Linked DNA regions of Homo sapiens. The protein of the gene in region 1 purifies or fractionates together with the protein of each later gene. This does not show direct contact. Each region holds a gene or a part of one and is shown in the gene's direction. Other genes may lie near its edges. The genes, in order: PDGFRL, MOCS1, RBM6, CKAP2L, HS3ST1, PPP6R1 and SP3.

Evidence for each region.
Region 2: the proteins of PDGFRL (region 1) and MOCS1 purify together in Homo sapiens (affinity purification with mass spectrometry; one large-scale study listed by BioGRID and IntAct). This does not show direct contact.
Region 3: the proteins of PDGFRL (region 1) and RBM6 purify together in Homo sapiens (co-immunoprecipitation; one large-scale study listed by IntAct). This does not show direct contact.
Region 4: the proteins of PDGFRL (region 1) and CKAP2L purify together in Homo sapiens (co-immunoprecipitation; one large-scale study listed by IntAct). This does not show direct contact.
Region 5: the proteins of PDGFRL (region 1) and HS3ST1 purify together in Homo sapiens (affinity purification with mass spectrometry; one large-scale study listed by BioGRID and IntAct). This does not show direct contact.
Region 6: the proteins of PDGFRL (region 1) and PPP6R1 purify together in Homo sapiens (co-immunoprecipitation; one large-scale study listed by IntAct). This does not show direct contact.
Region 7: the proteins of PDGFRL (region 1) and SP3 purify together in Homo sapiens (affinity purification with mass spectrometry; one large-scale study listed by BioGRID and IntAct). This does not show direct contact.

Annotation. Positions count from the first base shown.
Region 1 is NC_000008.11:17,580,216-17,583,715, forward strand, and holds part of PDGFRL (platelet-derived growth factor receptor-like protein precursor), read left to right. Parts: intron 1-3,500.
Region 2 is NC_000006.12:39,931,663-39,935,662, reverse strand, and holds the start of MOCS1 (molybdenum cofactor biosynthesis protein 1), read left to right. Parts: upstream 1-1,200; 5' UTR 1,201-1,245; coding exon 1,246-1,368; intron 1,369-1,439; exon of another isoform or gene 1,440-1,637; intron 1,638-4,000. UniProt on the Homo sapiens protein: Isoform MOCS1A and isoform MOCS1B probably form a complex that catalyzes the conversion of 5'-GTP to cyclic pyranopterin monophosphate (cPMP).
Region 3 is NC_000003.12:49,967,650-49,971,149, forward strand, and holds part of RBM6 (RNA-binding protein 6), read left to right. Parts: coding exon 1-1,099; intron 1,100-3,500. UniProt on the Homo sapiens protein: Specifically binds poly(G) RNA homopolymers in vitro.
Region 4 is NC_000002.12:112,747,610-112,751,109, reverse strand, and holds part of CKAP2L (cytoskeleton-associated protein 2-like), read left to right. Parts: intron 1-3,500. UniProt on the Homo sapiens protein: Microtubule-associated protein required for mitotic spindle formation and cell-cycle progression in neural progenitor cells.
Region 5 is NC_000004.12:11,426,095-11,430,204, reverse strand, and holds the start of HS3ST1 (heparan sulfate glucosamine 3-O-sulfotransferase 1 precursor), read left to right. Parts: upstream 1-1,310; 5' UTR 1,311-1,506; intron 1,507-4,110. UniProt on the Homo sapiens protein: Sulfotransferase that utilizes 3'-phospho-5'-adenylyl sulfate (PAPS) to catalyze the transfer of a sulfo group to position 3 of glucosamine residues in heparan. Catalyzes the rate limiting step in the biosynthesis of heparan sulfate (HSact).
Region 6 is NC_000019.10:55,238,518-55,242,017, reverse strand, and holds part of PPP6R1 (serine/threonine-protein phosphatase 6 regulatory subunit 1), read left to right. Parts: intron 1-378; coding exon 379-541; intron 542-626; coding exon 627-779; intron 780-938; coding exon 939-1,073; intron 1,074-1,717; coding exon 1,718-1,782; intron 1,783-1,903; coding exon 1,904-2,019; intron 2,020-2,041; exon of another isoform or gene 2,042-2,106; coding exon 2,107-2,192; intron 2,193-2,334; coding exon 2,335-2,424; intron 2,425-2,515; coding exon 2,516-2,613; intron 2,614-3,500. UniProt on the Homo sapiens protein: Regulatory subunit of protein phosphatase 6 (PP6). May function as a scaffolding PP6 subunit. Involved in the PP6-mediated dephosphorylation of NFKBIE opposing its degradation in response to TNF-alpha.
Region 7 is NC_000002.12:173,962,574-173,966,773, reverse strand, and holds the start of SP3 (transcription factor Sp3), read left to right. Parts: upstream 1-1,400; 5' UTR 1,401-1,602; coding exon 1,603-1,609; intron 1,610-2,220; coding exon 2,221-2,369; intron 2,370-2,890; coding exon 2,891-3,013; intron 3,014-4,200. UniProt on the Homo sapiens protein: Transcriptional factor that can act as an activator or repressor depending on isoform and/or post-translational modifications. Binds to GT and GC boxes promoter elements. Competes with SP1 for the GC-box promoters.

The DNA of each region.
Region 1 (3,500 bases):
GTCTGAGAGCAATATAGCCAGATCTCTAAGAAGGTAAGGACAGAGACACAATGACGAGGATTCTCTAACCAAGAGCCTTTGACACTTTCGTGTCTTCGTTTATTTTTGAGAAAAAAAAAGAGTAAAAATTAGTACAGAAATATTTTAATGAAAAAAAGAATTCTAAAGTTCCTTATTGTTTATGAATGCACATAATGAATGCTTTGAAGCATTTAGGATCTTGGCTGGCATGTTTGACATACAAAACCATTTCTGATCCTTAAAACACAGAAAGAGAAAAGTTTGAGGGCAAGAGAGAGAGATCTGGTGGTCAGAGGACTGATGGTTTTCAAACCTAGACAAGGTTTTAAAACCCTTTCTTTGTGGTGCTCAATGAAGGGAGAGGAAAGATAAAGAAGTAAAGATACAATTTAAGGAAGTGGTAAGTGGCATCGAGAATCATGAATCAGGGTCTATTAGGTTCCTAGGGCTGCCATAACAAAGTACCACGGAATGGGAGGCTTTAAAACCGCAGAAGTTTGTTTGCTCACAGTCCAGAGGCTTGTAGTCCAAAGTCAGTGTCAGCAGCACCACACAGCTTCTAAGATGCGGGTAGAATCCTTCCCTGCCTCCACTAGCTTCTGGTTGTGGTCAGCAACCCCTTGGCATTTTTTTTAGCTTGTGGCCACATCACTCCAATCTCTGCCTCTGTTGCCATGTGACCATCTTCTCCCCGTGTCTGTCTTTACATGGCATTTTCATACGTGTGTGTGTGTGTGTCTCCTCATAAGAACATCAGTCCTATTGGAGGAGAGCCTACCCTAATGACCTCATGCTAACTTGATTACATTTGCAAAGACTCCATTCCTCAATGAGGTTACATTCACAGATACCTGGGAGTTAGGACTTCAGCATATCTTTTTAGGGGACACAATTCAACCAGTAAGACAGGGTGAGACATGGAGAGGACTGAGGCGGGGTGTGAGGATGCCGTTTGAATGGATAGCCATAAGCCTGCCTGAAACAAGGAAGCAAACCCCGGAGGTAGCTGACAGCAAAGCTGTGCACTCCAGGGGCACCACAAAGGCAATAGCTTCAAGATGGGCTTGTACCGGTTGCCAGTGTGGCTGTGGCTGTGATGCGTGGGACGGGAGCTGGCCAAGCCTTGTAGGGCATGGGAAGATTTAGGGCTGGCTTCTAGATGAGATGAAAGTCACTGGAGGCTTCTGAACGAAGAAGTACCCATAATTTGATTTATGTTTTCAAAGGTAGGTGCTATGGTTTGCCCCCACCACATCTTATGTTGAATTTTGATCCCCCATGTGGTGGTGGTGGTGGGAGGTAGGGCCTCATGGGAGGTGTTTGGGCCTTGGGGGTAGATCCTTCATGAAGAGATTAATGCCTTCCCTTGGGGATGTGTGGATTCTGTATTATTTCCAGCAAGAACTGCTTGTTAAAGAGAGTCTGGTCCCTCCTCCTCCCACCGCACCATGTGATCTCTGCACTGCTAGTTATCGTTGCCCTCTGCCCTGAGTGGAAGCAGTCTGAGGCCTTCATTGGAAGCAGATGTTGGTTCCATGCTTCTTGTACAGCCTGCAGAACGATGAGCCAAATAAACCTCTTTTCTTTATAAACAACCCAGCCCTACGTATTCCTCTATAGCAATGCGAAATGAACTAACACAGAAAATTGGTACCAAGGAGTGGGATATTGCTATAAAGATACCTGAAAGTGTGGAAGCAGCTTTGGAACTGGGTACTGGGCAGAGAATCGGAAGAGTTTGGAGGGCTCAGAAGAAAACAGCAAGAGGAGGGAAAGTTTGGAATTTCTTAGAGATTGGTTATATAGTTGTGACTAAACTGTTGATAGAAATATAGACAGTAAAGTTCATGCTGACAAGGTCTGAAATGGAAACAGATAACTTATTGGGAGCTGGAGAAAAGTCACCCTTGTTAGGCCTTAGCAAAGAACTTGGCTGCATTGTGTCCATGCCCTAGGGATTTTGGAAGGCCACACTTAAGAGTGATGTCCTAGGGTATCCTAAAGAAGAAATTTTTAATCAGCAAAGTGCTCAAGTAGTGGTGGGTGTGGCTGGGTTTAAAAGCTTAGGATCAGCCGGGCAGGGTGGCTCACGCCTGTAATCCCAGCACTTTGGGAGGCAGGCGGATCATGAGGTCAGGAGATCGAGACCAGCCTGGGCAACATGGTGAAACCCTGTCTCTATTACAATACAAGAAGTTAGCCTGATGTCGTGGTGCGCACCTGTAGTCCCAGCTACTTGGGAGGCTGAGGCAGGGGAGTCGCTTGAACTCGGGAAGAGGAGATTGCAGTGAGCTGAGATCAGGCCACTGTACTGCAGCCTGGTGACAGAGTGAGACTCTGTCTCAAAAAAAAAAAAAAAAAAAACTTAGGCTCAAGATCAATTACAGCAGCAAAGGAATGACCTAAAGGTAGAATTTATTATGAAAAGGGAAGCAGAGAGTAAAAGTTTGGAAAATCTGAAGCCTGGCCATGTGGCAGAGAATGAAAGAGCATTTTGGGAAAAGAATCCAAGGGCACAGTTGAGAGACTGCTTGAATCATGCTAGTAGCTAAGAAAATAAGAGAAAGGCCTTATAGCCATTTTGGAAATCTTTGAGGAGCCCCTCCCATCCCAGGCCCAGAGACTCAGGAGAATAGAATGGTTTTGGGGGGCAGGCCCTGCTGCTCTTCTGCCGTGCACCACCTCGGGATGCTACTGCCCCTATCTCAGGTGCACCAGCTCTAGCCTTCACTTAAAAGGTCCCAGGTGTGGTTCCAGATGGGCGAATAAGAGCAGAAGAGGCCAATAAGCAGAACAGAGAGGTTGCTCCAGAGGGCACAAGTTATAAATAAACCTTGGAGGCTTCCACATGTTGTCAAGTCTGCATATTCCCAGAATGCAAGAGTGATGGAGGCTTAGCTTCCACCTAGATTTCAGAGGATGTATCAGAAAGCCTGAGTGTGCGAGCAGAAGCCTGCTACAGGGGCAGAACTAACACAGAGAGTCCCTACCAGGGCACTGCCTAGGGGAGCCATGGGAACAGGGCTCATGTGGGGATCCCAGAATTAGAGAGCCACCAGCAGTATGCACCCTCACCTTGGAAAACAAACAGACATTCAACTCCAACCTGTCAGATCAGCCATGTGGGCTTCACCCAGCCAAGTTAGAGGGGTGGGGAGGGCGAAGGCTTGTTTTTGATTTTCCAGGCTCACAGCTGTAAGGAACTTGCCTCAAGCTCAGATGAGACTTTGGACTTTTGAGTTGATGCTGGAACAAGTTAAGATTTCGGGGACTATTGGGAAAGGATGCTTGTAATTTGCAGTATTTGAAAGACATGAGTTTTGGGGGGCCAGAGGTGCAATGCTATGATTTGGATATTTGACCTCCTCCTAACCTCATGTTGAAATTTGATCACCAGTGTTGGTGGTGGGGCCTAATGGGAGGTGTTTGAGTCGTGGGGGTGGACCCCTCATGAATGGCTTGTTGCCCTCCTGGAGGTA
Region 2 (4,000 bases), on another chromosome or scaffold:
CTGAATTTTGAGTATCATTGTGAGAAATTCACATTGAATCTAAGGCTAAAATCATCTCAGCTTTTCTGACAGTCCCACTGCACTTGTAAAAGTCAGTTATATTCAGTTATTTTTTCCTCTCCCACTATTCGGTCAATTCTTCAAGATCAGGAGCTATATTCCCACTTCCTAAGCATGCACTTGGCAGCTGTATGTTCCAGCCGGTGTTTTATTCTTGCAATTCCACAGGGACAGGGTTTTGGATACAACAGGCTGGTTTGAGCATAATTATTCTTAGTACATAAGCTCATTATTGTGTGTGTTATCCAAAATCTTAAAGGACTACAGCACTCTGCTTTTTATAGAGAGGAAGAGGCACACCCCACCATTCCTAACACATACTGAATCTTGACTGAATGACTGTAGAAAGCAGATTGCCCTGGGTTTGAAACCCACTATCAGCTGTGTGACTTCGAGAAAATTACCTGGTCTCTCTAAGCCTCAATGTCCTCAGTTGCAAAAAGGACATTCTATTCATACCAGGATTGTTTTAAATAACATTTAGCATGGTGCTTGGTGTATAAGAAGCATTTCAAAAATGTTGTCCACTCATTCTGTGACTTCTCATATACTCTTGCCTTCTCCACGAAAAAAAAAAAAAAAAAAAAGATTGTTAATATCCTTTTGGGGCACAACTGGAGAAGTGTATCTTGAAAGACCTAACTGACCGTTTTACAACCACAATCTGCACTATGGTGCACTGAGTGATGTGAGTCATGCAAGTGTAGGCTAAATCTTTTTATTTAGAATGTTGATATTTCACGGACTTCTGAAAATTTATTACGATTTTTTGAAATATTACATTAAAAAATTACTTACTTTGATAACCGCAGTTTACCTGGCACCCTCTTAAATTTTGCATCCAAGGCAGTGCCTCATTCGTTTGGCCCTTGTCCTGTCCTGCCTACTGTCACACCACGACCTAAATCTGAGACTAGAGCAGCCAGAAAAACTGGAAGGAAAAGAACCCCGTTCCTTACCTGAGTTTACCCTTCTGCCCTAGAGCGCTACCCCGGCCCAGGAAAGTGGGCACAGGGAGCGTACTACAGCTCCCACAAGGCCACGCGGGACTGCGTCCTCGCCTATTGGCTGCGCGGGTCCCGCCCTCCCCCTGCCCCTCCCCGCCCTTGCTGGGATGACCCCGGGGGCGAGTGCCCGGCCAGTGTGCTCCCGAAGCGGGCTGCGGTTCCGCTCGTATCAGGCTTCATGGCGGCGCGGCCACTGTCCCGGATGCTGCGGCGGCTTCTGAGGTCCAGCGCCCGGAGCTGCAGCTCAGGGGCTCCGGTGACCCAGCCCTGCCCCGGGGAGTCCGCGCGAGCTGCCTCGGAGGTGAGCCCACCCCGCCTGCGTCCACAGCTTCCCGGGGCAGGAGTGGCCCCGGCACACTGCCCTTTTCCCCCAGTAGCTCCCGGCCTATCTGCTTGACCGCTTCTGGGAGGGACCCGTTGGCACTCCTCAGTGGAGCGATGTTCTCCAGATGGACCGCCCGGTCTCACCCGCTAGCCCAGCGGGAGAGGTTCCTGGGAGTCCCGCTTCAGAACCTCCCTGCCCCCCAGCCACGCCACCCCTTCTAGCCCTGAGCTTGGCCAGAAATTCGGGTAAGCAGAGGACTGGGACTTTGGGTCCAGTGAGGTGTCTTAGTACCTTTCAGCCTTGCCTTGCACCCACCCTCTTTCTTAAACATTTTCCCTCCCTATCCCAAGAGCTGAGAGATCAGGTGTCCCTGTGACACCTGCTTCATAGTGCGACTGACTAAACATGTCACCTCGGTGTCACCAACGATGAGTTGTTACTGTAGTCCCAGGGCTCTGTAACCCATCCTTTGCTGACTCTCCTTGTCTTTTTTATTAACCTTGGGAGGGTTCAGCCTTATCCTAGAGCAGAACAGGGCAGGACGTGGCTTCTTCCAGGTGAGAAATTAATTCCTCTGTCTTTAGGGTTTTGGGTAAGATCCCTCAGTCCTTGCCAGCACCCCTCAGAGTGTTTCAAGTCATTAAAAGTTTTAGGTTTTGGTTGTTCTTCTGCTCAGGTGGTTAGGGAATAATTTGGGGGGAAAAGTACCTCTTTTCATTTAGTGAAACCTCTTTTCGGTACCTATCTAGGCGTTTTTTTCCCCGTCTCCCAGAACTAGGCTTCCTGTCCTGGGATTCATAAGATCACTGCTCCCTCCTCCCCTATATTGCTCAATGACTTCCGCCAAATTTGCTTTCCCCAAATCTAAGCCCCTCTGGGATCCTCAGATAAGCAGGCCCATGGTTGGGAAGTGAAGACTTTTTAGTATCCTCAAACTCTGAACATCATTGAGGAAGAGATAGGAAAGCAAAGATGGCTGAGAGATCTTTAAAGAATTCAAGAAAAGGGACTTTTCTTCTCCAGCCCCCCACCCCCTAGTTTATTTTGTACTGGTCTTTCATGAGAGAACCTGTGTTGAGTGACTCACATGTGGAAGCATTTAGTCCTCACTAAGCCATGTGAGGTGAGTAGAGTTTGTATGTTCAGATGAGGGGGCTAATCTAAGTTAACTTTCCTCCAGTCGCAGAGCTGTAGAGGGCAGGAACTCAACTCTAATGCTTTTCCGTCCTCCCTGTGTGGAGGCCAGGGAGAGAGCCTGCTCCTATCCATCCCTTTACACTGTGAAGGGAGGGGTAATGTGGCAGAAAGGAGAACATAGACTCTGGGGCAGCCCCATCCCTTATTAGGGATTCACCAAGTCCCCTTACCTCTCAGTGTCTGTTTTCTCATCTGCAAAGTAAGAATAAAAGTGTCTACTTCATAGGATGTCACAGGGATTAAAAGAGTTAACGTATGTTAACGTATATACTTAGAACAAAGCTTAGCCCATGTAAGTGCTGTGTTATGTAAATGTTGGTGGTAATTACTATTATCCATGCTGCCACTGGCACATGCTCTGTCCTGTGAGTCCCCTCCCATCTGGACTTGTTGGATAGCTATTCTGTCAACTCACATTGAATCCTGGACATCTCATTAGGATTATCTTCAGCAGACTGGGAGTTCCTGAGGGCTGGGTGCACCTCCGCCTTTCTATCCCCACAAGCGCTTAACGCAGGGTTGTGCAGGCAGTGGATTCAGCCAATAATTGTAGCTGCTTGAAACTTAACTAGTGAGGAGTCACGTGGCATAGTAGACCACACTGGACAGGGAGTCCCATGTTTTCACCCGCCAGTTTCGCCTCCAATTTCACCTGGCTCCTGGGGCTGTCACTTCCCTTTGCTTCATGTTTATAAAATGAGAGGACTGGGCCAGCCCATCATAAGATGGGGGAGGGCACAGAAACTTGTCTTGAGGAGACTCTAAGGGGAGGTGAGTCTGGAAATGGATATGTTCTGCTCATCTCCAGAGCTTGCCAGTTGGGGTGGGGACACCTTGAACCCCTTCTTGCAGGGTCTGTCTCCCCCAACACGCCCACACAGGGCTCTGGTAGTCTGGTTTGGGATGGGAGGTGCTTGGAGAGCTAGGATGGAAAGCCACTGGGCATTGTTTGTGTGGCAGGATGAGGGTGTGAGGGAGAGAAGTGAGGTTAAGTGGGAGCTGGCTGTGAGGATTGCGGAAAGGGGGCTGTGGGCTGAGTCCAAGAACAGGTCGAGTAGCTTCTAGCTATGGAAAGGAGTAGTGTGTGGGTCAATGGGGAGGTGGGTGGGGGAGACACAGCAACCTGCCAGCCTGCATCTGGGGTGGCCCAGACAATCTTTGTAGGGTTCAGCCTAGCCTGGGAGTGCTGTATCCCTCTTTCTCCCTCTGAGGCTCCATGCAGGCTTTGTTGGGCAACAATGAAGCCTGCTGCCTGTGGCGGGGGAAGCAGGGAGGGTGAGTCTAGGCAAGGCAAAGGCACCCATCTGTTCAGGGGGCCAGAAAAAACAAATGCTGGCTAGGGGTTAGGCTGCAAGGAAGTGGGTGTGGGTGAAGGTAGAAGGAGTACAGCAGGCACTGGTGAGGGAGAATG
Region 3 (3,500 bases), on another chromosome or scaffold:
TGGAGCTAGAGACGGACCGCATGGTGACTATCGAGGAGGGGAGGGACCTGGACATGATTTCAGGGGGGGAGATTTTTCGTCTTCTGATTTCCAGAGCAGAGATTCATCACAGTTGGACTTCAGGGGTAGGGACATACATTCTGGGGATTTTCGGGATAGAGAAGGACCACCTATGGACTATAGGGGTGGAGATGGTACTTCTATGGATTATAGAGGTAGGGAGGCACCTCATATGAACTACAGAGACAGGGATGCTCACGCTGTTGACTTCAGAGGTAGGGATGCTCCTCCATCTGACTTCAGGGGCCGGGGCACTTATGATTTAGATTTTAGAGGCCGGGATGGATCCCATGCAGATTTTAGGGGAAGGGATTTATCAGATTTGGATTTTAGGGCCAGAGAACAGTCCCGTTCTGATTTTAGGAATAGAGATGTATCTGATTTGGACTTTAGAGACAAAGACGGAACACAAGTAGACTTTAGAGGCCGAGGTTCAGGTACTACTGATCTAGACTTTAGGGACAGGGATACGCCACATTCAGATTTCAGAGGTAGACACCGATCTAGGACTGATCAGGATTTTAGGGGCAGAGAGATGGGATCTTGTATGGAATTTAAAGATAGGGAGATGCCCCCTGTGGATCCAAATATTTTGGATTACATTCAGCCCTCTACACAAGATAGAGAACATTCTGGTATGAATGTGAACAGGAGAGAAGAATCCACACATGACCATACGATAGAAAGGCCTGCTTTTGGCATTCAGAAGGGAGAATTTGAGCATTCAGAAACAAGAGAAGGAGAAACACAAGGTGTAGCCTTTGAACATGAGTCTCCAGCAGACTTTCAGAACAGCCAAAGTCCAGTTCAAGACCAAGATAAGTCACAGCTTTCTGGACGTGAAGAGCAGAGTTCAGATGCTGGTCTGTTTAAAGAAGAAGGCGGTCTGGACTTTCTTGGGCGGCAAGACACCGATTACAGAAGCATGGAGTACCGTGATGTGGATCATAGGCTGCCAGGAAGCCAGATGTTTGGCTATGGCCAGAGCAAGTCTTTTCCAGAGGGCAAAACTGCCCGAGATGCCCAACGGGACCTTCAGGTATGTTGATGGGGTGGATTGCTTTTTTTTTTTTTTTTTTTTTTTTTTTTGAGACGGAGTCTCGCTCTGTTGCCCAGCCTGGAGTGCAGTGGTGCGATCTCTGCTCATGCAAGCTCCGCCTCCTGGGTTCATGCCATTCTCCTGCCTCAGCCTCCTGAGTAGCTGGGACTGACTACAGGCGCCCACCACCACGCCTGGTGTGAGCCACCGCGCCCGGCCTGCTTTTTTTTTTTTTCTTTAAATAAGACTTTTGTGAAGGATGACATTTATTTATTTATTTATTTATTTATTTTTGAAACGGAGTCTTGCTCTGTCACCCAGGCTAGAGTGCAGTGACATAATCTCAGCTCACTGCAACCTCCGCCTCCCAGGGTCAAGCAATTTTCCTGCCTCAACCTCCTGAGTAGCAGGGATTGCAGGCATGTGCCACCATGCCCAGTTAATTTTTGTATTTTTAGTGCAGATGGGGTTTCACCATGTTGGCCAGGCTGGTCTCGAACTCCTGACCTCGTGATCCGCCCACCTCGGCCTCCCAAAGTGCTGGAATTACAGGCATGAGCCACCGTGCCTGGCCAGTTTTTTTTTTTTTTTTTCATTTTATTTTTATCTTTGCATAACCATTAGAAAGCAAAATTTGTATTCAGGAGTGGAATGTAGGAATGTAAATCTCTAGAGAAAAGGTCCTCAGCTCAGATCATATATATGTGTGTGTGTGTGTATATATATATATGAATATATATGTATATATATGAATATATATTTATATATATATATTTCTTTTTTCTTTTATTCTTTTCTTCCTGCTTCACTTTCCATTTGTGTATATATGTGTGTGTATATATGAAGGAACTATATATATATATATTTGAGACACGGTCTTGCTCTGTCACTCGGGCTGAAGTGCGGTGGTGTAATTATGGCTCCTTGCAGCCTTGACCTCCCAGGCTCAAGCGATCCTCCCACCTCAGCCTTCTGAGTAGCTGGAACTACAGATGTGCGCCAGCCACTATGCCTGGCTAGTTTTTTTTTTTTTCCTTTGAGAATGAGTCTTGCTCTGTCGCTCAGGCTGAAGTGCAGTTGTGCGATCTCAGCTCACTGCAACCTCTACCTCCTGGGTTCAAGGGGTTCCCCCGCCTCAGCCTTCCAGGAAGCTGGGACTACAGGTATATTTCACCATTCCTAGTTAGTTGTGTTTTTTTTTTTCTTTTTTGAGATGGAGCCTCACCGTGTTGCCTAGGCTGGAGTGCAGTGGCACGATCTTGGCTCACAGCAACCTCCGCCTCCCGTGTTCAAGCAGTCTTCCTGCCTCAGCCTCCTGAGTAGTTGGGACTGTAGTTGTGCACCACCAAATCTGACTAATTTTTGTATTTTTTGTAGAGATGAAGTTTAGGCATGTTACCTAGGCTGGGCTGGAACCCCTGATCTCAAATGATCCACCCTTCTCAGCTTCCCAAAGAGCTGGGATTTCAGGCATGCACCACCATGCCTGGCCAGCAATTTTTGTATTTTTTTGTAGACAGAAGGTTGCAACATATTTCCCAGGCTGGTTTCAAATTCCTGGGTTCAAGCAGTCCCCCCACCTTAGCTTCCCAAAGTGCTGGGATTACAGCAATGAGCCACTGCCCCTACCCTTTTGATGTGTGTTTATTCATTATTTTGTTTTATGATGCTGATTTACATGCCTTGGGATAATTTAGTTTGAAAGTATATGTCTTTGGGAGTTGACTCTTGCAACTCTCGCTTAGTTAGACCTGTGATTGTTTAGGGATCATTTTCTTATTTAAATTCATTGAGAGAATACTTAGGAGTCTCCCTAGTTGTGAAGAGCTGATATTAATGTTGCAACTATCCTCTTGCAGCTAACGTAATTAACTTAAATGTTAAACTTCTTGAATATATGATTTAAGCAAGGAGGGTTATATTTGTAATTTTACAATGAAGGTATTCTCTTTTAAAGTAGATTTGGCTGGGTACAGTGGCCTATGCTTGTAATTTCAGTGCTTTAGGAGGCTGAGGTGGGAGGATCACTTGAGGCCAGGAACTTGAGACCAGTGTGGTGCAACCTCAGGAGAGAATGTGAGGGTGGGGAAGAAAAATAAGGCCAGGCACAGTGGCTCATGCCTGTAATCCCAACACTTTGGGAGGCAAAGGTGGGCAGATCATTTGAGGTCAGGATTTCAAGACCAGCCTGGTCAACATGGTGAAACCCCATCTCTACTAAAAATAACAAAAATTAGGCCAGGCGTGGTGGTTCTTGCCTGTAATCCCAACACTTTGGGAAGCTGAGGCAGGTGGATCATTTGAGGTCGTGGGTTTGAGACCAGCCTGACCAACACGGAGAAACCCCATTTCTACTAAAAATACAAAATTAGCTGGGCGTAGTGATGCATGTGTGTAATCC
Region 4 (3,500 bases), on another chromosome or scaffold:
TGTTTCTTTGGAGGATAATTTTGTATATATCCTCTCAATTTGTTATGGGGTCATTGTTCTAGAGTTCATATATCTTGAGTCAACTTTAGTAATTTTGTGACTTTTTAAAGGGATTTTTTCTCAATCTTTTTAAAAGATCTCAGGTTTTATTGCCAAAGATTTTTTCTCATTAATCTTTTTAAAAGACCTCAGGTTTTATTGATTATTTTTTCTCTTGCATCAATGTCTGCATCTATTTTTATATTTATTGCTCTTTTCCTAGCTTTTTAATTGAAACCTTAGATCATTTAAAAGTGAGTCTTTCTTTTTTTTTTTTTTATAAATATGTTCAGTGCTATAGCAGATTTGCCTCTGAATTTTACTTTGGTCATATCCCTCAGATTTGACTAAGTAATACTCTTTATCAGTCAGGATCAAGTCTGAAAAACAAACCACAGAAAGAATGTAATTGGTTACACAGTATCTTATGTGGGTTCTCTAGAGGTGGAGCCTAAGAGGAGAATCCATGTGAAAGTAGTTTATTAGGAAGACACTCCAGGGAAAACTGGGAGGGGAGTGAAGTTGTAGGATCAGAAAAGCGAATCCATGGACGGTGACTCTGGCACAGCCCCACAGGGGAGCTCTGGAGACAGTGTAGGTCACATCTCTCAGAGTCATCCTGATCAGAGGCAAGGGAGCTACATTGTTAAAGCTTCCATGGTCATTTATTCATGGCTGCCTCGGGCGGACAAGAATTGTCAGGCACTTCTCACTCTCTGGGCACATACGAGGGAGCACAGATGCTGGCTGTGAAAGCACGCGGTAAGCCTGTGTGCACAAGATGCTGAAGGGATCAGAAGGAGTGTGGGTGCTACACACAGGGCTGACAGCACACAGGAACCTGAGGTAATGTGATAACTGTAGGAAGCAGCTTGTACCCACTGGGTCTAGGAGAACAAAGAGAGGTTAGGGTATCAGAACCAAGAAGCAGGAGAGACAAACCCTGGTAGAAATGGGACTCCAACTGTAAGGAAGGCATACTACCCAGCAGATGATGGAGGAGAGGCCCTGCAGGGCTGGGGCTCAGATTTTGAGGAAAAGATGCTATCCATTTGGTGCTTCTGCTCTGAAGCTGCACAGGGAGGTGGGCTCTGAGGGGGAAAAAAAGATGCTAGAACCAACTGTTACTGCCAGGGTGAGGGACCGTTGCTGGGGTGATGAAAGCAAATAGGAAGAAGCAAGTGTCTTCCTTCTCCATCCCTGCAGCCTCCCTCTCGTGCCCCCTGCTGGCAGAGCTGAGCAGGGAGCTGCTGCCCAGCAGAAAGTTTTACAGAGTTTTATCCCCAGCATCACAAAGCAGAGGATGGGGTTTGGGGCCAATAGACAAAAGCTTCATAACTGACATATCTTGTCATTGTTCATTTCTAAATAGCTTGAGATTCCCATTTTGAGTTCTTTAACCCAAAAAATATCTTAGAAAAGTATCTTTTAATTTCCAGATGTGTAGATTTTTTTTTTCTGCTGTTAATTTCTAATTATATTGCATTGTAGTTGGTGAATGTGGCCTATGTGTACTCTACTTGATGGATTTTGTTGAAATTTTCTTTGTGGCCTTAATATCTGATCATTCTTGGTAAATGTTCCAAAAGTGTTTGAAAATAATGTATATCCTATTTGTTTATTTGATCTATTGCTTTCTGAAAGAAATATGCCAAAGTCTGTCACTGGCACTGTGATTAATCATTGACAATTTCTCTTCATATGTCTGTCAATTTTTACTTTCTATTTTTTAAAGTTATGTTGTTAGGTACAGAAAGATTCATGACTTGCTTTGATTTCTTTTGTCTGATTAATCTTGCCACACCTGCTTTTTGTTGTTAGAATATGTCTGGTAGCTCTGGTAGCTCTTTTTCCATCCCTTTACTTTAAGCCTTCATGGGCTGACTTATTTTAGGTATGTCTCATATAAATGCACACAGTTAAATGTTTTAAACAAATTTGAAACTCTCTGCTTTTAAAAAGCAAATTTAGTTCGTACACATTTATTATGATTACTTGTATGTTTAAACTTATGCCTGCTATTTTATTTTGTAATTCAGCTTACATGAATTATTTTTTCCTCATTTCTGTGTTTAATCTAGTTTTATTTCATAAAATAATACACTGAAATGAAAATAAAGTGATAGATGTAAGCTCAAACATGATTTGCAGAATATATATCATATTCTTCTTGCAGTTCCTTTTTTCATTTTTTTTTTTTTTTTAAGAGACAGGGTTTCACTCTTTTGCCTAGATTGGAGTGCAGTGATGCCATCATAGCTCACTGCAACTTTAAACCTCCTGGGTGGACCCAAGTGATCCTCCACCTCAGCCTCCTGAGTAGCTAGGACTACAGGTACACACCACTACACCCATTATAGTTTACATTTTTTTGTAGACACAGGGTCTCACTGTGTTGCCCAGGCTGGTCTCAAACTCCTAGCCTCAAGCAGTCCTCTGCCTCAGCTTCCCAAAGTGCTGGGATTACAGGTGTGAACCACCCACTGCACCTGGCCTGCAGTTACTTTTATTTCAAGTCTTTCATGTGAATTCTAAAGTTTACTCACTAGTGACTTTATGATTTTTGAATGGCAAACCTTTTGAGTCTGTATTCTTGTGAAACTTGTTATTTGCCTTCATGCTGGAATCATAGTTTGGCTGGGGGAAATTTCTTAATTTCAGCTTGTTTTCCCTGGAAAAATTTAAGTGACTGCTTCATTTTCTTTCTTGCATCTGGAGTTGTTGATTTGTTAATGTCTCACGTCAGTCTGATTCTCATTCCTTTATAGGTAATCCTTTTCTTCCCCCTCTCTGGAAGCTTGTACGATTTTCTTTTTATCTTTGGTTTTCTATTATATTTTTTTCTCCCATTCATCCTGCTTAACTATCTGAGAGCCTTTTCAACCTGAACAACTGTTTCTTTGTTCATTTCTTGAAATTCTTCTTCTACAACCACTTTGTGTGTTGAACTTTTTTCCTTCTAGAAACTCTCTTAGATGGATATTGGAGTTATTGAGTAATGGATATATCCTTCAGAACTCTAAATGTTGTTTTCATACTGTTCACTTCATTGTTTTATTACACTGGTTTCTAGGAGGATTTCACAGCTGAATTTTCAGCTCACAGATGTATTCTTCAGCGCTGTCCATGCAGTTGTTCTGCCTTTCTGTTGGTTATTTTTCATAACAGCCCATTCTAGTTTTAGGATAGCAATACTCTCTCTTATCACTCTGAAGATATTGACTGTGATACTCTTAAAAGTATTCCTCTTTGCTCCAGTGTTCATTCTTGTTTGTTGAGTTTTATGCCTCTTTCATGTAGTGTTGGTTTTCTCAAATGTTAGTGATTCTCAATTGTGAACTTACCTTTGCGTCTCCCCCATTTCTAGCAGTAGAAGGTGCTGCTTGGCTGAGTGTGCCAGTACCTGGATTTCTGGGCATGGTAGTGCTCCCCATTCGTTGGGTCCATGTCACTGTCCTGCT
Region 5 (4,110 bases), on another chromosome or scaffold:
TCTCAGCTTTCAGGGTGCTTCTGGCTGTATCAAAAAGACAGAATATACTGGTCACTGTGTTGTTTTCTGAAAGTGCCGAGGGTAATCTGTGTATGAGTTAAAGGGCCAATTTCCTATAGGAACCTTCTCTTAGATGGGATTTTTTTTTAATTAAACAATGTTGGTGAAATATATTTAAACGTAAATCACAAATTCGAAGTCTTCCAAATATTTATTTACTAATGTGGAAGACATGGAAACTACAGTAATCTCATTTAAAGGAAGTTACTTTGATGTGCATTTGCTTTTGGCGGGGTATGATTGCTGACCTGCCTTTGAGGGCAACTTCCTTTGGCTCAGGTAAGCAGGCAAACCCGTTTCTCCAAGGCGATTCCAACCCCACGCCCCTCAAAACCTTAAATCTTAAATTGAGTTATTGGGTGCAGGTCCTTTCTCCCACAGAACCTCCCAGCTTCCGGAATAGAGGAGCGGGGCAGAAATATCCTGCTTTTTATTTCAGAGCTGACGTTTGCAATCCTAGTGCACTAGCGGAAAAAAAAAAAAAAAAAAAAAAAAAAAAAAGCTGAATTTTCCGCGCTCTCCTGGCAAATTGGCGTCCGCTCTCCGACGCTAAACCAAAGGAAAAGGAGTGTTCAATGGCGACAGGGCGCTCTTTGAAGCCGGCTCCTCACGCGGATTCTGGCCCAGGCCGCCGCTCCGGTCCCAGTCCGGCTGCAGAGCGAATTGGAGAGGATGGCACCTCCTGCTTCCCGGGGGGCGGAAGGAGCGCCAGCGCCTAAGGTGGGTCACCTGCCAGGAAGGGAATACGCATGGTGCAGACTCACGTGGGAGGAGCACAGGTCCCGGGTACAAGTGCCGAGCTGGCGACTTAGAGAAGAGGTAGACTCGGGCTCAGACCAAGCAGGCGTAAGGGAGTAGACGGGACGTCCCGTGTTTGCAGTGACGGCGGAGTCACCCATCCCAGCAGCCTCACCTTCTTGGAGCGCTGGTCCCTCCCCTTGGACTGAAACCCCAGGGGCCACCGCACCGGGTGGGCGGGACCGACTACTACCCGACCAGCCGCTGGAGCTGCGTGCCAGGCGGGGCTGTGCGGAGCAGCTGAGCGCAGAGCGGAGCACCAGGCACCTAGCGGGCCGGACTCTGGGCGGCACCCGAGCGGGCCGGGCAGCAGTGGGCGCTCGCGATCCTCCTCTGCCCAACGCGCTCTCCCTCCGGGCCCGGCCTCCTCCGTCCCCTCCTTTTGCTCCCGCTCCTCCTCCCGCTCCTCCCCCTCCTCGGGATTGAGCACCAAAACGCCCGCCTGCAAGGTCCTCTGCGCCCTGGCAGCCAGGAGTCGCCGCCACGACAGCCGGGTCTCAGTGGGTGCCTGCGCCTTCTCCCCGCCCGCCTGCCCCGGGCCATCCAGAAACTTGCTCTACCCGCCGCGGGTGCTCGGCAGTGCTGCCCATGGCCCAGCCTAGGAGCCTATTTAGGGCGCCGGACGGGCTGGACAGAGGCGCGGCTCAGGTGAGTGCGGCGCGCGCGGGGTGGGAGAGTGGCAGGACGCAGGTGTAGAGGGCTCCGAGGTGCCTTTGTCTGGCGTTCTGGACTTCGGGCAAGTGCAGAACCTAAGAAGAATCGAGGCTGGAGCAGGTGGAGTGGATGCAGAGGGAACCAGGAAGCAAAGGCTGGGGATTTTCCCATCCTCCTCACCTCCTGCCCTAGCACCTCTGCTCTGGAAGTCCCGAGGGACCGGTTGATCTGTAAGGACAGGGACCCAGATTTCTGACTCTTACTGGGTTGGATGTTTTCCCCCCCTGCAGAGTCGTGAGGTTCGCTCCTGCCGGCCGCTTCGCGACCGCAGCTTCACCATAGGACCCTGTAGGGCAGCGAGAGCGCAGCACTCAACGGATCCTGGGTACCACCTGGGGCCAGAAACTGGGGCGAGGACACAGCCCGCAAAAGTAACTCGGCTGAGGGAGCCTTTGGGGGTGGAGAAGCCTTGGTCGGGTTTGCCTTTGCATTTGGTTGGAGATAGGCATCTCCCAAAGAGAGAGATTGAGGTGACAGCCCTGACAATAAACCTCTCATCCCTAATGCCAATTACATGAGGGTCTTGATTTTTTTCTTGTTACTTTTTACTGATTTTTTTCCCCCTTCGTGGTTTTCTATTTCCGGGCCCTTGGGTAGTGGCAGCGGATGGAGGTGAGGGATGGCGGGGTGCGAACCCGCGGTTGGAACGCCTAGACCCCAGCTCCCAGGAAGGGTCTTATTCGCGGAGCTTGACCTCTCCAGGTGCGCTCTACCAGCCAGGGGGCGGACGGCGCGCTGCTCCTCCTTCTAGCCCCAGCCTGTCCCAGGAAGCGGAGGACAGACCCAGAACGTAGGCGGATGATGGGAAGAAGAAGCTGGAGCCAAAGCCGGGTGCCGGCGCGGGATGGGGTGTGCTGGGCTCTGCAGTTATAGGTCTATAACTCTGCAGTTATAGGCGCTATAGGTCTTCCATCTCTTTCCCTCCCCTGGGAGCCAGCGATTCCTCGCACACTCAGGGCGCTCTCTTGGGCCAAGGGTTGCATCCTCCCTCTTCCTCCTCCTTTGCAGATCCAGTGGTACCCTTGCCTCGCCTTGCGCGAGTCTCGCTCCTCCCTTTCCCACAATGTTATCATGAGCTATTTTTATCTACAACTTGTGCCAAGATGCTTTTGGGGGGATTCTAGGGAGGCCACTCCAAATCCACTGTCTTTGCGCTGCGCTCCGAGAAACAGTCTCCTGTTAGCATGGAGCAGCCTCAAGGAGTGGCGGGGAGGGTGGCCGAGAACGGAAGGAGCCAGTCCGCCCTCTTCTCCTCCCTCAGCCCTAGCCCCGGAGGGAAACCCCGCCACCACCAGCTCGGCTGCGCCTCCCGCCAGTAGCCCCGGAAGAGGGTCCCCAGACGAGTCCCCACGCTCCCGCTTTCAGGCGCTGGGTGCTTGGACACTGCTGAGGCAGCAGCCTGGCACAGGCAGGATCCTTCATTCCCACCCGTGCGTTCTCGCTTTGCAGGCAAATCTCATTTTATTTTGTTGAAATGCTTCCACCCAAGGGTTAATTCCAGGAATTCCATCTTTAAAAAAAAAAGAAAAAAAAAGGAGGGAGAAATAACCCAACTTCTGCCTCCCTGCATTTCTAAAGCAAAGCGCATCCTTTGACGTTCGGATTTTTTTCTTGCTTTCTGCATTCCTGGTAATATTGGGTAACACTGGGTGCAATTAGAATAAGCCTTACCTACTGAAATTCCAGGAGACGCGCGCTCCGCTGCAAATCCCTGCCTTACCCTTCCCGTTGTACATCCAGCGCTTAGATTTTCCCCCACAGGATTGCAGAAATAACATATTGAAATGGACCATTGTGTTACATAAGGTTTTCTCCAGCGCTAAGCAGAGAAAGAACAGCTTCTAAAAGAGTCTTTCCAGGTTTTGGTTAGCCCATCTAACTCTTTCAGCTGAGTTTGACAGGGATGGACAACTTCATGACTAAGCACTCTTAAGTGGAAGCAGTTAATTACAACAGCAGCATAGATGAAGATTCCTTAGTGAGGCTTATTAAGCTGTGCTTCTAGACTGTGGATCCTCTGTGATGCCACAGGGTATACAATGCTCTGTAGTTTTAAGATAGGAGATTTTTGTTCTGAGAAGCTGGTGAGAAATTGGCATCTTGAGATGGCATCGGAAAAAGCAAAGGGTTCTTTACTTTCCTGTGGTTATGTCTAGAATGAAGCCTCAAGCCCCCCCCCTGGGTCCCCCTAAAAGTTGGAGCATGTACTTTTCTTATTAAAATAAGAAATTATTTTACTGGAAAAATCTTGTGAGGGTTGGGGGGGGGGCCTCTGAAGGGAAAAGCCACATGGAAGCTTCTCTTGCCTTGAATTGAAACTCGATGGTGACTAGGAAGGGGCTAGAAAGATGGCCTGGGTGGTGTAAATTGCTTCACTCATGCACACTGCCTTTCTGAGAACATAGCAGCTACCCACAATGGCATATCCCCACCGTGGTTGCTAAATCATGTCTGTCTATGGGGGCTAAAGTTTGGAGGAAGGCACAGTAAGATGTATCTGGTGTCCTGATGAAATTGAGCCTGTAGGCTGGGTCAGTG
Region 6 (3,500 bases), on another chromosome or scaffold:
TACGGGGCCGAGGGAGGAATCTTCTTGTCTGCTTTGACAAGTGAGGGCACTGAGGCTGAGGCCACTGCTGCAGCTTGTGTTGGGAGGGACCCCAGGCCCCCGTGCCCCTGCCTTACCACACAGGCCGCTAGCCTGTTGGGTTTGCCTTCCCGCCTCCACCCCTCACCCGTGCTCTCACAGTGGACTGCCAATGCTGCCGCCTGGCGGGCTCCCCACCCCAGCCAGGTGTTGTCTGAAGGGCCTCAGAAGAGAGCGGCGCTGGGGGCATGTGGCTCCTCGTTTTCCTCCAGACCCTGCAGACGTGGTCCTTGTGCCTACTCCTGTGTGGGCGCACAGGCCATCTAGGCTCACTCCGCCTTCGACCCTGCCCTGCTGCAGGTCCGAGTCCGTGACCGTGAACAGCTTCTTCAGCAGTGTGGATGGGCAGCTGGAGCTCCTGGCCCAGGGGGCCCTGGAAAGCACTGTGTCCAGTGTGGGCGCCTTGCACGCCCTACGCCCGCGGCTCAGCTGCTTCCACCAGCTCCTGCTGGAGCCTCCCAAGGTCAGGGGTGTGGGTTCTGGTCCTCGGGGAGGCGGGGGAAGCAGGAAGGGCAGCCCTTGGGAATCAGGCCTCCCTGTGTCTGCAGCTGGAGCCGCTACAGATGACATGGGGCATGCTGGCTCCGCCTCTGGGCAACACGCGGCTGCACGTGGTCAAGCTCCTGGCCAGTGCCCTGAGCGCCAATGATGCAGCCCTGACGCACGAGCTCCTGGCACTGGACGTGCCCAACACCATGCTGGTGCGGGGACTGGACCGGGCTGGGGGTTCAGGGGCTGGGGCGGGGACTGGACTGGGCTGAGGGTTCGGGGGCTGGGGTGGGGGCTCGGCTGGGGGCTCAGGGGTTGGGGGCTCGGCTGGGGCGGGGCCTCTCTGGTACCAATCCTGTGTCCTCCCATAGGACCTCTTCTTCCATTATGTCTTCAACAACTTCTTGCATGCCCAAGTAGAGGGATGCGTGAGCACCATGCTGAGCTTGGGGCCACCTCCTGACAGCAGCCCTGAGACGCCCATCCAAAACCCTGTTGTGAAACATGTGAGCTGGGACTCCCTGGTCCCCCTCCTTCTGGGCCCATCCCCTGTGGGCGCACCCTCTCCAGAGGCCTACCCCTCACTCCTTCCTCCCACAAGTGTTTGTTGGGTAGTGTTAGGTGCCAGCGCCCAGATGGGGTGTGGGAGGCATGGCCAGGGAGAAACGCGGATGAAACATGCAGGTGCAGGGAGCAGTGGGCTCCTGACTTGAGCTGAAGAGCTAGGGGTGGGCGGGAGCAGACCTGCGAGCAGCTGAGTGTGCATGAGTGCGCACACGTGCGTGTGTGAGCATGTGTCAGTGCAAGCGTGTGTGAGAGCATGTATGTGTGTGAGTGCACACGAGTATGTGAACATGTATGTGTGAGCATGTGTGTGTCCGTTAGTGCATGCATGTGTGTGTGTGTGTGTGTGTGTGTGTGTGTGTGTGTGTGTGTATGCACCACATATTCTTTTGTAGAAAGACCAGAGAGACTTGGGTGGATGCCAGGGTCCCAAGCCCCAGCTTGCATCCCTCCTTCCCATCCCCGTCTCTGGATGAGCGGGGGCCTGGTGAAGCATCTGCTGAGGAAGGGACCCCTGCTGCAGTGCAGAGCTCCCCACATGTGTGCAGACCACCCCTCCAGGCCATCCTGTCCCGCTCTCCCGCAGCTGCTGCAGCAGTGCCGCCTGGTGGAGCGGATCCTGACGTCCTGGGAGGAGAACGACCGTGTACAGTGAGCACCTGCTGCCCTTCATGTCTCCAGGGGCTGGGGCTGCCTGGATGGGGGGCCGGGCTGGGGCTGGGCATCCCTGGGTCCAGTCCTGGCTTGCAGCCGCGGCCTTCACTCTTGCCAGGTGTGCGGGAGGCCCTCGGAAAGGCTACATGGGTCACCTGACAAGAGTGGCCGGTGCCCTGGTGCAGAACACGGAGAAGGGGCCCAATGCAGAGCAGCTGCGGCAGCTGCTGAAGGGTGAGGGTCCCCAGGCCGGCCTGAGGGCTAGGTGGGGGGCTTGAAGCCCCGAGATGCCTCACGTCTTCACCCCTCTCACCTAAGCAGAGCTGCCCAGCGAGCAGCAGGAGCAGTGGGAAGCCTTCGTATCGGGGCCCCTGGCGGAGACCAACAAGAAGAACATGGTGGACCTGGTGAGGCCCAGCTTCTCTTCCTGCACTCCTCCTGCTGCTTCTCTCTCTTGGGCCAGTCTTAGCCTCCCACCGCCACCGATAGCTGCCTGCCCACCCTGGTCTGGGGGCTCCAGCAGGCCCTGACGCCCCCTCCTCTCCCCAGGTGAACACCCACCACCTACACTCCTCCAGTGACGATGAGGACGACCGGCTCAAGGAGTTCAACTTCCCTGAGGAGGCTGTGCTGCAGCAGGTGGGCGTGGGGCTATGTGGGGCTGTGCTGGGCTATGCTGGAGTGGGGTCCTGCCCAACTCCCTCCAGCCCTAACCTCCGCACCCCCACAGGCCTTCATGGACTTCCAGATGCAGCGCATGACCTCTGCCTTCATTGACCACTTCGGCTTCAATGATGAGGAGTTTGGGGAGCAGGAGGAGAGTGTGAAGTGAGTGTCTCCTGCGCAGGGTCACAGCCCTGTCCTGCCTCTGCAGCAGCAGGCGCGCCTACTTGTATCTGTCCCCTGCACGCACCTACATGCCCTGTGGGCTCAGCCTGCAGCTGTGGCCCCTCCTGGGCACGCGTTGGCCGTGGCCTTGTGTGTGTGTCTGCAGCCTCGTGTGTCTGCCTCCTGTTACATGAGTTCCAGCTCTGCAGTCTCTTCTCTCCGAGAGGCAGGCCATGAGGGTGGGGCACAAACATCTTCTGTGCTGGGGACACAGAGCGGGTCCCTCCCACTCCTGGAGCTAGCCTTAGGGGTTCCAGGCGGGAGGGGCTCAGGGTAGTGGGGACCAGCAGTCCTGGCGCAGGGACTGTGGGGCAGAGCTGCACCTCCATGGATGCCCTCTGGCTCAGGAGTCTGCCAGACATGGGGGTCCAGTTTTCCCCTCCACAGGCCTCGGGGTAACAAAACTTTTTTTTTCCAATTACCAATTCTGCTTGTTTTGATTTGTGGGTCAACCACATCTTAATATCAGTCACCTCTGGGTGTTATGATCATGAACTTTTCTGAGTTTCTTGCCACAAGCATCTGTTGCTTCTGGAGTCAGAAAAAAGTGGCTGGGCGGAGTGGATCACACCTGTGATCCCAGTACTTTGGGAGGCCGAGGCAGGCAGATCACCTGAGGTCAGGAGTTCGAGACTAGCCTGGCCAACATGGCGAAACCCCATCTCTACTAAAAAATACAAAAATTAGCCAGGCGTGGTGGCAGGTGCGTGTAGTCCCAGCTACTTGGGAGGCTGAGTTAGGACAATCGCTTGAACCTGGGAGGCGGAGGTTGCAGTGAGCCGAGATTGTCCCACTGCACTCCAGCCTGGGCAACAGAGCGAGACTCT
Region 7 (4,200 bases), on another chromosome or scaffold:
TTAAGTGCTTTGGAACTGGGATGTAAACTCAGTATCTCACAAATGGATTACCTATTAAGTTAGGACACACAAAATCTGGTTAAAGTGCTTGGACTTCACAACCTCATCCACCAGCACATCACATATCACACAAAATATAATAATCACAGTAATGGGAAAACTGAATCTTGAGCCAGATTTCTAAAAAACAGGTATTGTGGACAGTGTTTCCACCTCTTGAATTTAACTTCTTTCTTGGCAACTATACTTGAAGGTAACAGGGAGAGATGTCTCTTAGTTGGCAAAACACACACTTAAAACCTGAGCATTTTCCCCCAGGATGACAGCAAGATACCAAGGATGCCAAAGAAGGAAGGAGTGTTAACCTAATCCAGTAAGAGAAACAAGATTTTAAAATACAACAAAAATGTTCCAATGGGGGAAAAAAGGTAGTTCACCGGTTCACGACTTTAAAAAACGTTGGCAGTGGTTGATGGGCTTATTTCAGGAGATATCTGACTTGGTACCAAGAGGATAAAGAGGCCGGGAATAATACGTTTGTGCAGCAAAATGGTTATGTGACCGATTTTTTAAAACACAGAATTCTGCCCCACTGAATACATACACATACCACAAGTAAAATGAAATATACTTTTAAGTGCCCGTTTTGGTGCCACTGGCCAAAATTAAAACTCTCCTTCCGTATGTGAGGTGACTTGAGATTTCTTTTTTGCTTTAAATGCCTGCCTTCAGGGTACGTGAAAGTGGGAGACCGGTTGGAAAACTGGGGCTAAGGGGGCTGGGAGCGAGATGGCTGTGACTGAATCAGGAAGCTGGATGTGAGAGAGAAAAATCCTCCTCCAGCCTCGGAGGGGGTGTCTCCCCTAATACCAGCTCCCTCCCCCCGGGCTCGTGGGGCGGGTCTGGTTTGCTCAGTAGCGGCAGCGGCCGCAGCAGCAGCCCCGGGGCTGAGCAGCGGTGGCCTCCTGGCAGCGCAGGGAAGCGGCGGCTCCAAGAGCGCGAGGCCCTGGGGAGATCCGGCCAAGACTGCTGCCGGGATGGAGGAAGCGTCCAGTGGAGCAGGAGTCACCGGGGACGAATTTCCTCCCCAGCTCAGCTCCCCTACAGCTTGGCTAGGCCTGCTCCGAGCGCCTGCAAGGTGGAGGAGGCCTGCGCCTCGGGCCTGGCAGCGGCAGCCGGCGAGGGAGGCGGGCACAGCGGGGTAACCGGCGAGCCGTAGCCGCTCTCGAAAACCTACGCTGCCACGGCCGCTCATTGTCTCTCCCCTTCCACCCGGGGGCAAACAGGAAGCGCGCCGCCTGGCAGACCGACGGACAGGCGCCTGGACCAATGAGCACAGCCGACAAAGAGCACGGCGGCGAATGAGAGCCAAGAAGAGGGGCGGGAGTTCCGGGCGGGCTGTCACCCTCTTCCCCCCTTTTGGGCTGGAGGCTCCACCTTTTGTGTTTCCCGCACAGTCAATCAAAATAGGAAAAAAAAATCCCCGGACCGCTCCGGCCGTGTCCGCCGCCGCTTCCCGCATCCTCTCCCGCCGCCGCCGCCTTCGCTCCTCACCATGTGTAAGGCGGCGGGGAGCCCCGCCTGAGGTGCCCTAAACACACTATGACCGGTACGTAAAGCCGAGAGAGCAACCCTTGCTGCTGCCGCCGCCGCCGCTGCCGCCGACCACAGCCAGCCCGGGGCCGCTGCCGCCGGTCTCGGCCCCGTGTGTGCGACCGAGTGTCTGTGAGAGGCAGAAAGCTGCACTCCCCTGCGCCTCCCTCCCCTCCCCGCCAGCCACCGTCCACCCCCGAAGCCCCAGCAACGCCGTCTCCCCGCCAGGCCCCGGGGCGGGCGGCCCGGTCCGCCGGGAGCGCATCCCCCTGTGTGCGGGCGCGGGCGGGCGTGTGTGAGTGACTGACGGTGCGAGAGGAGCGAGCGCGAGTGAGAGCGAGCGGCGCGAAGGGAAAGGGGAGGAGAGGAGAGGGGGCAGGGGCAGCGCGGGGAGGAGGAGGAGGAGGGAAAGAGGAGGAGGAGGAGGGTTACAGGCAGCGGCGGGCGGGGGCAGCAGCAGGAGGGGAGGAGGGAGCCGCCGCCGCCGCCGCCGCCGGGGGGCGGGTGGGGGAGGGGAAGGGGCCTGGGTCCGGGCTTTGGGAGTAATTTCGCTTCGGCCCGCGGGCCCCCTCCCTCTCCGCCACCCGCCTTCCTCCCCACCCCCACCCCCCCGCGCTGTGCCTGCAGCTCCCGAAAAGCCCGTGAAACAAGAGGAAATGGCTGCCTTGGACGTGGATAGCGGCGGCGGCGGTGGCGGCGGCGGCGGCCACGGCGAGTATCTGCAGCAGCAGCAACAGCACGGAAACGGTGCGGTGGCGGCGGCAGCGGCGGCCCAGGTGAGGAGCGGCTGAACCCCGGCCCGGCTCCCCCCTCGCGCCGCTTTCTCCTCCCCTCGCCTCTCCCCTCCCTCCTCGCCTCACCCCTCCCTCCTCGTCTCTCCCCTCCCCTCCACTCCCCTCCCCCCGCCCCGGGAGCTGCCCGCCCGAGGCGCCAACGCTCCGACCCCGCCCGCGCCGCCCCGCCTCGCCCGCCTGCCGCCTTTTTGTGCGCGTGTGAGTGTGGGCCCCAGCGTGCCCTCCCGGGGGTGGGTTCCGGGCGGAAGGCGGAGGCCCGGCGCGCAGCCCGCCGCCCGCCTGCCCGCGGACCGGGGAGCCGGGGTGCTTGGAGCGGGGGACGCCAGGCGTGGGCTGGCGGCGGGACCAGGAGGAGGAGGAGGAGGAGGAGGAGAGCGCGGGCTGGCGCTTGCCCGGGCGCAGTCGGCGGGGACCGAGTCGTACTTCCTGTGCGAAAGGCGGCCCGACCCTAACCGCCACCCCCTCCCCCTGTCTCCCTCTCTGAACCCGCCCATTGGGGGTAGGACACTCAGCCGTCACCGCTCGCTCTGCTGGCCGCTACCTGCAGCAAGATAGGGCCGCCATCGCCGGGCGACGACGAGGAGGAGGCGGCCGCCGCAGCCGGGGCCCCCGCCGCCGCCGGAGCGGTAAGTCCCGCGCGCGGCCCGCCCCCGCCGAGGCCGGGCGCCCGCCATCCCGGACCCGTGGCGCGCCTGCCCAAAAGGCCTCCCCGGCGCCCGCGCTTCCCCCGACCCGCACGGGCCGCTGGGCTCCAGGGCGCCCTTTCCTGCTCTTTCGCATCCCGGTTTGGATCTGAAGCCAGCCCAGGCTTTCTCGAAATTGTCACTGCAGCACCTCGCGCAAAATCTTCACAAAATGAAGTCTGAGAGGGCGGGGGTAGAGGACTCCAAAATGGATGTTTGAGCAATTCATATCAGTGCTGAAAACTCCTTCGCTTAACACTACAAAATTTTCAAGCACAGCCTATCGGCCATAGATAGTATCAACTAGAGGCAATGTCTTTAGTTTTTATTATTTTTGAACCTGGAGCATTTTCTGTTGGACGTTACAGGATCTTACTGCTTTAAATCATACATTATTAAAAAAAATGAGGGTTTATTCTTTGAATTACCCTTTTGTATGCAGGAGTGAAGACTGCTTTTTTAGTTGACCATTCAAAATCGTTGAATTTTAGTTTTTGCAGACTACTAAAATTTGCAGTGACTTTTTTTTTGTAAGGGGGGTAAATGAAACATTTAGCAGCCTTTGAAATCAGCAAGTTGCTTAGATAGTACTTTAGATTTTGAAACTGAATATAACAGTGTTAGAAAAGTATGTGTAAGGAATTGTATTTACGTGCATACTAGTAGTACAATACTTATAGCTGAATTTGGTTGGCAAAAGTATGTTTTCATTTTATTACGACTGCTAGTCAGGTAAGATATGGTGGGATTCTTTCTGTAGTGTTTTCAGTGTCTGGGCAAGGGGAGGAGCTCGCCTGTGTTATATGAGGGGTTAATACCAATAGGATAGGAACAGTTTTTAGACTGTTAATTGTGAATTTTACATTTGGGTCATCACTGTTGTGTAGATTTGTTCACCTATTAAAATAATGAAAACCCTCATTTGAGTGTGTGTGTGTGGTGGATCATAGGAATTGATTTGTGGAGTGATACTTTCAATAGTCACTGAAGACAGAAGTTTGGTATTTGGTATAGTCTACAACAAATGCTTAGTATGTCCAGGTATTTTTTTTTTTTAAGTTAAACCAATGTTAAGCTATTACTGGTAAATAATTTGTAATTTTAGTGCTTCGTTATAGGGGATGTGAATA